3 linked regions of the Homo sapiens genome follow. The protein of the gene in region 1 purifies or fractionates together with the protein of each later gene. This does not show direct contact. Each region holds a gene or a part of one and is shown in the gene's direction. Other genes may lie near its edges. The genes, in order: EPHX2, BCAT1 and PUDP.

Region 1 (3,657 bases):
CACCAAGGTTGCCAGGTTTAATTATGCCTCCAAATTTTGTTCAGGGCCCAGGGATAGCTTTTGGAGCTTTTTCCTGATATCTGCGGCTGATTGGGTAATAAACTTATCTTTTAGAATCAATTGACCCTCGAGGGAGTCAGGTGACAGGGGAGTATATTTTCTTAAGGCCTCCTGTAGCCGCTCAAGGAAGGCAGTAGGATTTTCTACCTTTTCCTGAGTTATGGTGGACATCATTGAATAATTCATGGGCTTTTTCCTAATTCTCCTTAGTCCTTCTGGAAGACAGGTCAACGGATGTTTGCGACTCCAGTCCCCATGATCTGAGTCTAGGTCCCAGTGGAGATCCATACTGGGGACGGCTTGTTGACCGGTAGGGATTTGTCCCTTTCTTTGGCTGTCATTCTGTCATTTACTTGACTAAGATACCATTTACTTGACTAAGATACCAAACTCTCAGGCTGCAGCTAAAGCCGCATTCTTTTCATTAAAGGGCAGGGTTTGATCTAACAATAGCATGACATCTCTCTAAGTGAGGTCGAAGGTTTGCCCTAGACCCTGTAGGACATCTATATACCTATCAGTATCATCTGAAAACTTCCCCAGGTCTACCTTGATCTGCTTTAAATCAGAGAGGGAGAAGGGGATATATACCCAGGTTGGGCCAAATTCCCCTCCCCCTACAGCTTGAAGGGGACATAACCGATAGCCCGGGGGTTTTATGGTCCCTTGGAGATTTCTTTGCTTGTTTCCTTCTGAGTGGGGGAGATTAGAGGAGGCTTATCATTAACAGGAAGAGGAGCTGGAGCTAGGCTAGGATATGGAGGTAAGCTCATGTTTCCAATACCAAGAATGTTCTTGTTGTATCAAGTTGCTTTTTTTTTTAATGACCACCTGCCCTTGTTTTATAGATTCAGTGGTATCTTCTTCCTGTATAGTTATATTCTTTCCCTAGTTCCTCTTCTTTTATCATCTCCCATTCTCTAAGAAGAAGAAATAATTTTCCCCTGTTTTCCCACTCACCTAGTGTCTTGTAGTTATTTGTTTATACCTTGCCTCCCTTGTTCTTCTGTGAGCTTCCTATGAATAGCATCATATTTTTCCACTTTTGCATCACAGCACATAGCACAATGCCTCACATACCTAAGATGCTCAATAGGATTGTTAAGTTGAATATTGCATTGCTTCTTAATACTGAGGAGCAGATACTGAAAGGGACCAGGAGTCTTTTGGAGGAGGTGGAAATGTTCTAAAATTGGAATGTGGTGATGCTTACACAACTGTAAATTTACTGCAAATCATTGAATTGTCATACTACATGAATTTAATGCTATGTAATTGTCTTAGTCCATTTTCTGTTGCTTACAACAGGATATCTGAAACTGGGTAATTTATAAAGAAAAGGAATTTATTTCTTGCAGTTATGGAGGCTGATAATTCCAAGGTTGAGGGGTTGCATCTGGTGAGGGCATTTTTGCTGGTAGGGACTCTCTGCAGAGTCTCAAGGTAGCACAGGGCATCATATGGTGAGGGGGCTCAGTGTGCTAGCTCAGGCCTCACTTCCACTTCTTATAAAGCCACTAGTCCCAATCCCATGATAACCCATTAACTCATTAACCCATTAGCCTATGGATGAATTAATCCATCCATGAAGGTGGAGCCCTCATGACCCAATCACTTCTTAAAGGCCCACCTCTCAATTTTAATTTAATGCCACAATGGGGATTAAATTTCAACATGAGCTTCAGAGGAGACAAACGTTCAAACCATAGCAGTAATTATACCTTAACAAAGCTGTTTAAAAAACCAACAACTGTTGGCAAAGGTATGGGAAAACCATTGCTGACATTGAAAAGTTGAGCAAGGCCACAGATATTAGGTATATGTCTCCATATAGTTGGTCCAGAGCTGACCACTGTTACCTGCAAGAGGGTGTCTGATAAAAGGTATACTTGACTATTATCAGAAATAAAGCTCCCAGGATGGGGATATTTGTTCTGTTACTCAGGGCTGGTAATTTTAACTGGCTTGCCACTTCAACTGGAATTCATCTGGGATTGGCAAGCCAGTTAAAATTACTTTCCAGACCTGAGTAATAGAACAAATGCATTCGTACACATAAATACATTTGTTCTGTTACTCAGTGTATTTATTTACTGAGGCTGCTGTAACAGCAAACAGAGACTGGATGGCAACAATGGAAATGTTTTCTCTCACAGCTCTGGAGGCTGGAAGTCCAAGATCAAGATGTCAGCAGGGTTGGTTCCTTCTGAGGCCTCTCTCCTTGGCTTGTTAACAGTGTTCTCCCTGTGTCCTCACATGGTTGACTCTCTGTGTGTGTCTGTGTCCTAATCGCCTTATAAGGGCACCAGTCCTATTGTTGGATTAGAGCCCACCTGTATGATCTTATTTAACTCAATTACCTCTTAAAGACCCACTCTCCAAATACAGTCACATCCTGAGGTATTGGAAGTTAGAACTTCAATGTATGTATTTGGGATGGGGGTATACAACCCAGCCTTAACACAGTGATATGGTTTGAATTTGTGTCCCCACCCAAATCTCCTGTCCAGTTGTAATCCCTAATGTTGGAGGAGGGGGTTGGTGGGAGGTGATTGGATCATGGGGGTGGATTTCCTCCTTGCTGTTCTCGTGATGTTGAGTGAGTTCTCATGAGATCTAGTTGTTTATAAAAGTGTGTAGCACTTACCTCTTCTCTCTCTTCCTCCTGCTCCAACCATGTAACACGTGCCTTGCTTCCCCTTCACCCTCCGCCATGATTGTGAGTTCCCTGAGGCCTCCCCAGCTATGCTTCCTCTACAGCCTGCAGAACCATGAGCCAATTAAATCTCTTTTCTTTATAAATTACCCGATCTGAGGTACGTCTTTATAGCAGTGTGAGAACAGACTAATACAGGAAACTTTTTAAAGGTTAGAAGATGACATTAAGATAAAATAGAAACTAGAGAGGCAGAATCGAAACCACAAAAAACATATTCCATTCTTTTTGAAGAAGGTGAACTCATGAAAAAGTTCTTTGAGACCATGCCTGGTGCACACGAGGACAGTAATGGCCGCGTGCCCACTCTCGGTTCTGACCGTTATATAGTAAAGTAGGAAGCGCCTCTGGGTGAAGCTGCTATTAGGTGGTTTCCCATGGGCAGCTTCTCTGTGGAACATACTGTGATTTACTGTATGGTCTCATGTCCTCAGCTGGATGGCTCCTTGCGCGCAAAGATCCCAATTTGAACTGCGTTTGCATTTTCCAGTTCCTGGCAGTATCCCTTTCTAGTGGCTGCTTCTCAATGAATATGAACAGTGTCTGTTTCCATGTGCTGCCATGACAAAATCCACAGAATGTTCCTGATGTTCTTTGTGTTTTCCAGAGGACTTCTGAATGATGCTTTCCAGAAAGGGGGACCAGAGGGTGCCACTACCCGGCTTATGAAAGGAGAGATCACACTTTCCCAGGTGAGGGGACATCACCACACAGAGCCCTTTGGATGAACGTTCTCTGCCTGTGTGCCCATCTCCCCGAACTTGGGGCCCACCATAATAGAAAACACCCACCTTTTCTGTGAAGACAAATGTTGTTTTAATGGTATTAATGGGAGTATTGCAGTCACCTTAAAACATACTTGCTAATATATTGTGGCAAAT
Region 2 (3,657 bases), on another chromosome or scaffold:
CAGGCACATGCTACCATGCCTGGCTCATTTTTATATTTTTGGTAGAGATGGGTTTCACCATGTTGTCCAGGCTGGTCTCGAACTCCTGACCTCAAGTGATCCAACAGCCTTGGCCTCCCAACGTGTTGGGATTACAGACGTGAGCCATCACACCCAGCCTTGAAGTTGCCTTTTTTATCTTCAGTAGTGCTTCTTGGCTTAAATTCTTTTGTTTTATAAATAGTAATGGAAGCTTGCCAGTTTTATTTTAGAAAGTATTTGCAGGCCAGGTGCAGTGGCTCATGCCTGTAATCCCAGCACTTTGGGAGGCCGAGGCAGGCACATCACTTGAGCCCAGGAGTTCGAGACCAGCCTAGGCAACATGGCAAAACCTCGTCTCTACAAAAAATACAAAAAATTAACTTGGGCGTGGTGGTGCGCGCCTGTAGTCCCAGCTACTCTGGAGGCTGAGGTGGGAGGATTGCTTGAACCCAGGGGGTAGAGGTTGCAGTGAGCCAAGATCTTGCCACTGAACTTCATTCAGCCTGGGTGACAGAGAAAAACAACTCTGTCTCAAAAAAAAAAAATAAATAATAAAAAATAAAGTATTTGCATGATATATCTTTTTCTGTCTTTTTGATTCAGATATTGTCAGCTGAGTCCAATCTAACAAACTTATATTTTAACCGAAGCTTTAGTACTGTTATATTTAATAAACTAATAATATATTTGCACTTAAATACAACATCTAATTTTATGCTTTTTAATTATACATGATTTGTATTTCTTTTTTTCCCATGTAAGTTTTTAGGGTATACATCTTTAAAGGCCTTACTTTTCATTATCGTTCAGTTTAACTTATTTTCTAATTTCCATTTTTCTTCTGTGACCTATGGTTTAGTTAGTGGTGGATTTATTTTCCAAAATATGGATGGTGTCCAGTCAAACTTTTGGTATTGATTTCTGGCTTATCTTGTGTTTGGAAAATATGTGAATTCTACAGCTGGTCTGTGTAAGAGTTCTCTGTATCAGTTAGGGAAGTTTGTTCTTCCTGTTGTTCATATCTTGCATATCTTTACTAAGGTTTAGCCTGTTTGTTCTATAAATTACTTAGAGAAGCTGTGTTAAATTTTCCCACTAAAATTATTGATTTTTGTCTTTCTCTGTATTTATCAGTATGTATCTACTGAAGTCTTTTCAAATCCCTGATCAGTGGTTTGTTCAGGACAGCACTTTGATTGAGGGAGGTGACGTGGCTTAACATAGTATGGTCTTGAGCTGCCTGGTTTCTGTGATTTAGGGACTGAACCAGCTCTGGTCACATCTGGATTATCTACTATCCAGCATTCAAATGAACCAGATTACATGAAAGGATATGGGGGTACTCTTTGGGGGCCACGGTGCCACAAGGCCTTTGGTTTCGATCTCCATTGCCTAGGGAATTAACCTGTGCTGTGTGATTCTAGATGTTTTCTTCCTGCTCCCTTAAATAACACCTAAATGTGTTATTCAGCAGTGTGGCTCCTGCTAAGCAGAGGAGAACTCGGAATTCCTACCAAATTCTGATAATAAAATAACTTTCCTCCACCTCAACCATTGTTTTTACCAGTCCTGTCAACTGTTAGCTTTCCTGGATTTAATGATCTCAAGTTGAGGTCAATGTCAACAGCTTTATGGGATGAATAAGATGAACGCCCATAGGAAAGTCAGTCTCTTGAACACGGGTTGTTTTCTTTTGGTTACCCTCTAAGATTTTTTCTCTTTGATCTCCAGTTATTTGAAGGATTGAAGGCATTTCGAGGAGTAGATAATAAAATTCGACTGTTTCAGCCAAACCTCAACATGGATAGAATGTATCGCTCTGCTGTGAGGGCAACTCTGCCGGTATGTAAGTGTAGGAGTTTCTTTTGTGTTTCTTTTAATGTAACGGGTCACGGTGTTGACCACCAAATAAATAATTTCTGAATAGTTAGATAAATATTCAGTACAAACCATATGAACATTAACATTATTTCTGATCTACTTTAGTTAGGTAAAAATACAAGAAAATGGCCGGGCACGGTGGTTCACTCCTATAATCCCAGCACTCTGGGAGACTGAGGTGGGTGGATCACTTGAAACCAGGAATTGGAGACAAGCCTGGCCAACATGGTGAAACACCATCTCTGCAAAAAATACAAAAATTAGCCGGGTTTGGTGGCACATGCCTGTGGTCCCATCGGTGTGGCTGAGGCATGAGAATTGCTTGAACCTGGCAGGTGGAGGCTGCAGTGAGCCAAGATAATCACATCACTGCCCTCCAGCCTAAGCCGCAAAGTGAGACTCTGTAAAAAAAAAAAACAAAAAACAAAAAACCCAAGAAAATAATATCATTTGGCAATTCCACAATTTTTTAAAATCAGTGTCTGTGGGGGATTCATATGCAAGTGAGAGATGAAAGAGTAAGGAAGAAAAATGTATCTCAACCTAAAATAATATTTGAAGACCACATGAAATTAATATTGAAAATGGAAAATATGGTGTGCAGCACAGGTATTTTGCGGATATTTTGCCTAATTGCTTTAGATGCTAGCAAGATATAGTAACTTAATTATTTTGATATTTTATCTTAAGTAATGTTTTGAGATAAAAAGATATCAAAATGGTTTCTCATGGCCATTGAATCGTGGCTGTCACAATGTTTCTTATGGAGCAGAAATCATTGTAAGATGGGTTAGATTTTTTTTTTGAGAGAGAGTCTCACTCTGTCACCCAAGCTATAGTGCAGTGGCACAATCTTGGCTCACTACAACCTCCACCTCCGGGGTTCAAGTGATTCTTGTGCCTCAGCCTCCTTAGTATCTGGGATTACAAGTGCACGCAGCCATGCCCAGCTTAATTTTTTTAAAAATTATTTTTAGTGGAGACATGATTTCACCATGTTAGCCAGGCTGGACTTGAACTTCTGGCCTCAAGTGATCTGCCTGCCTCAGCCTCCCAAAGTTCTGGGATTACAGGCATGAGCCACCGTGCCCAGCTTCAGGGATTTAGCCCAACCTATGCATTCAGGAAGCCTGAGGACGGCTAAATCCAAGTGTTCTTCATTCCTCTGCCTATTTTTGTAACCCGCATTTCACCCATCTCCTTTGGAGGCCATAATATAGTAGCAGAGGGGAAATTAAGGTAAATTCTTTGGACTAGGGCATAGTTTCGCTCTTCTTCTCATTACAGCTAGATCACTGGGGAAAAGTCTTTAAAATGGGGCTGGAAGGAAAGGGAAGTAATATTTGTTAGACATCAATTTTGCTACCAAACTGTGTTATGTAGTTTCACATTCCTTATCTGTGTAATCACAGCAGTAAGGCGTTGCTAAGAAGATTATTTGTTGTACAGTTTATTAGTGCCTTTGTACAGAGAAGAAAACTTGAGTCCAGAGAGATTAAATGACTTGTCTGAAGTCACAAAGAGCAAAAGGACAGGGCAAGAAATTAGATCCAGGTGTTTTTATTCCTGGTCAAGTTCTCTTCTCACTGAATTCTGTCTCTAGACAGCAATACCAGGGGCTGAGGCAGGTGCTACAGGGTTCACCTATATGATTGGCAGTCCCAATTTCTATAACATTACTACATTATTATTGCTGTTACAGGTCAATATTTAAATAGACAAATTCTGACTTCATGAGCTTTACTCAGATGCTTA
Region 3 (3,024 bases), on another chromosome or scaffold:
GTGTGAGCCACTGCGCCCAGCCTACGTCACCTTCTTATTGTGATTGATTGTGATAGCAACCAGTTACCAACCTTGACTTTTCGCCACTCTTCATGCTTATTCGAGTCCCCCTTACTTTATGTACGACATTTGTCTTACATGTTGTGTGTAGTATTCCAGATGTCAGTGCCATTTTGGATTATTCTTAAAAATAGGTGAGGACAGATTAATTGAACACAGAGGAACCAGCAAAACGTGAAAGCCATGAGAAACAGTAAAAAGGTCTCCAAGAGCTGGTGTCAGCTGCTCCTGCTGTCAGTGCCGCAGACACTTGCAAGTTTCCCTCCTCACTCACAGCCCTCACTTAGTTGCCTTTAAACAGGGGCTGCCTTTGAAAAGATTTCTCAGGTGTGAAGGGACACCATGGGGCCTGCATTTCCCTCCACTGCAGACCCCCTGTATTAGTCCATTTTCACACTGCTGATAAAGACATACCCAAGACTGGGTAAATTACAAAGAAAAAGAGGTTTAATGGACTCACAGTTCCACATGAATGAGGAGGCCTCACAATCATGGCAGAAGGTGAAAGGTATGTCTTGCATGGCAGCAGGCAAGAGAGAGAATAAGAGCCAAGCGAAAGGGGTTTCCCCTTATAAAACCATCAGATCTTGTGAGACTTATTCACTACCATGAGAATAGTATGGGGAAAACTGCCCCCATGATTCAATTGTCTCCCACCAGGTCCCTCCCACAACACGTGGGGATTCTGGGAGCTACATTTCAAGATGAGATTTGAGTAGGGACACAGCAAAACTGTATGACCCCCTTTAGGTGAGTGCAGGTGTATTGGGTGCCTTCCATTATCTCTTTGGGAACAGCCACAGTCAGCTACTGATTTCCCGTCCCACACACCTGTCTTGCTCCTTGGAAGCAGCCTCACGCAAATAGAGAATAAAAGCTGCTTTCACAACTTAGCCAAGCAGTGTTACCCCAGGGGATAATCCATCTCTTCCTCTACCCCAGTCCACATTTCACAGGTGGACCCTGCACAAAGCTTCAGAATCCCCGGAGAAGGTGACGGATATTTTGAAATGTCATTTGACATTTAAGTGCCTATCTCTGGTCCCAGATAAAAACAGTGGAGGGCATTTAGAATACAATCAAGTCATAACTTTTAAAAAGGCAAGGGCAGAAATATCATGAACAGGTAGTCACTGAATGAGATAACAGAGAAAACCAACTTGGACAGTCTAAGTGGAGTCATTTCTTCTCGCGTCCTACGGTGACCAGTGTCTCACAGGAGAAAGAAACCAGGGGGCATCAGAGGCTGTTGGAAGGGAGGTGTTGGGACGGACTACTGTGGCTTGCCTGGGACTGTCCAGGGTGTAGCACGGAACATCCTGCCCCACAGCTGACCCTTCAGTTCCAAGCAAACCGAAACAGCTGGGCCAACCAAGTTCCCTCTGTGAAAGTAAGGTAGCATTCACATTCCATTGTCACATGGATTAACTCACTTAATCCAGGGTTCAGCCCTGTTGGGATAAGTTGGCTAATATGATATTTTAGCCCCAGATTGAAGGAAAGAATGGGGTAATGGAAAGAAAAAGGGAGGGAGGGAAAAAGAAAAAAGTCATTGTGCTGGCTACAGCACAGACCACTAGTAGTTAAGACTGTGTGTGTGTTTCAGTGTTTTCTACTGAAAACGCCAAAGAATGCAGAGCTTCTCTTTCAGACCTGGCATCAGGCTTCCGTGAGCCCTTTCCAGGACACCAGTGCATTGAGTCGCTGCTATATACCTGGTGATGAGCCGAAGAGGACATTTTCATAATGAAAGGCAAAGGGGGCCAGGTGTGGTGGCACACACCTGTAATCCCAGCACTTTGGGAGGCCGAGGCGGGCAGATCACTTGAGTCCAGGAGTTGGAGACCAGCCTGGCCAACATGGTGAAACCCTGTCTCTACTGAAAAATACAAAAAAAAATTAGCCGGCTTGGTGATGCATGCCTGTAGTCCCAGCTGCTTGGGAGGCTGAGGCATGAGAATTGCTTGAGCCTGGGAGGTAGAGGCTGCAGTGAGCCAAGATCGCACCACTGCACTTCAGCCTGGGTGAGAGAGCAAGACTCTGTCTCACCAAAAAAAAAAAAAGAAAATGCAGAGGGACAAAGGAGACAAAGAAGAGATGAGTGGAGAGCTGAAAGGCCCCACCTCAACAACTCCTGGAGTTCTAGGCCACATGTGGAGAAGAGCAGGGGAGACTCCTCAGCATAGGTCGCCATGGCGAGGACCTCTCTTCCCTTACAGATGTCTGGGCCTCTGCAGAGTCTCAGTTAAAAAGCATCAGTACATCTGTTTTCACATGAAGTGTGTGCCATTCTAGGAATGCAGGGAAGAAGCTTCCTTCCTAAGTGTATGTCTTCCTGAGAGGGTCGGTGATATGAAGATAGCACATGTGGATTATGCTTGTTTATACTATGGAGCAGGCTCTGGGGTGTCTCCTTTGGAGGGAGCCCTCATGTGAAACTTACTGTAACATTGTCAATGTGGTGGCACCTTTAGGAGCTCACTGATAAATGCAGTGTACAAACACCCCATTTTATGTATTGGTTTTTCTTTTAGTACTTTATTTTTTTCCTTTTTAATTTTAATTTTTATTTTAATAGTCTGTAGGGTACAGGTGGCTTTTGGTTACATGGATAAGTTCTTTAGCAGTGATTTCTGAGATTTTAGCACACACGTCAACCGAACAGTGTGCACTGTACCCAGTATGTAGTCTTTTCTTCCTCACCCCGCTAGTCCCCAAAATGCATTATATAGAATTCTTATGGCTTCCCATCCTCATAGCTTAGATTCCACTTATAAGTGAGAGCATACGATATTTGGATTTCCATTCCTGAGTTACTTAGAATAATGGCCTCCAGCTCCATCCATGTTGCTGCAGAAGACATTATTTCATTCCTTTTTATGTCTGAGTAGTATTCCATGGTGTATATATGCCTCATTTTCTTTATCCGCTCATTGGTGGATGGGCACTTAGGTTGGTTCCATA

Evidence for each region.
Region 2: the proteins of EPHX2 (region 1) and BCAT1 fractionate together in Homo sapiens (co-fractionation; one large-scale study listed by BioGRID). This does not show direct contact.
Region 3: the proteins of EPHX2 (region 1) and PUDP fractionate together in Homo sapiens (co-fractionation; one large-scale study listed by BioGRID). This does not show direct contact.

What each region holds. Positions count from the first base shown.
Region 1 is NC_000008.11:27,497,543-27,501,199, forward strand, and holds part of EPHX2 (bifunctional epoxide hydrolase 2), read left to right. Parts: intron 1-3,383; coding exon 3,384-3,468; intron 3,469-3,657. UniProt on the Homo sapiens protein: Bifunctional enzyme. The C-terminal domain has epoxide hydrolase activity and acts on epoxides (alkene oxides, oxiranes) and arene oxides. Plays a role in xenobiotic metabolism by degrading potentially toxic epoxides.
Region 2 is NC_000012.12:24,879,507-24,883,163, reverse strand, and holds part of BCAT1 (branched-chain-amino-acid aminotransferase, cytosolic), read left to right. Parts: intron 1-1,752; coding exon 1,753-1,863; intron 1,864-3,657.
Region 3 is NC_000023.11:7,051,134-7,054,157, reverse strand, and holds part of PUDP (pseudouridine-5'-phosphatase), read left to right. Parts: intron 1-3,024. UniProt on the Homo sapiens protein: Dephosphorylates pseudouridine 5'-phosphate, a potential intermediate in rRNA degradation. Pseudouridine is then excreted intact in urine.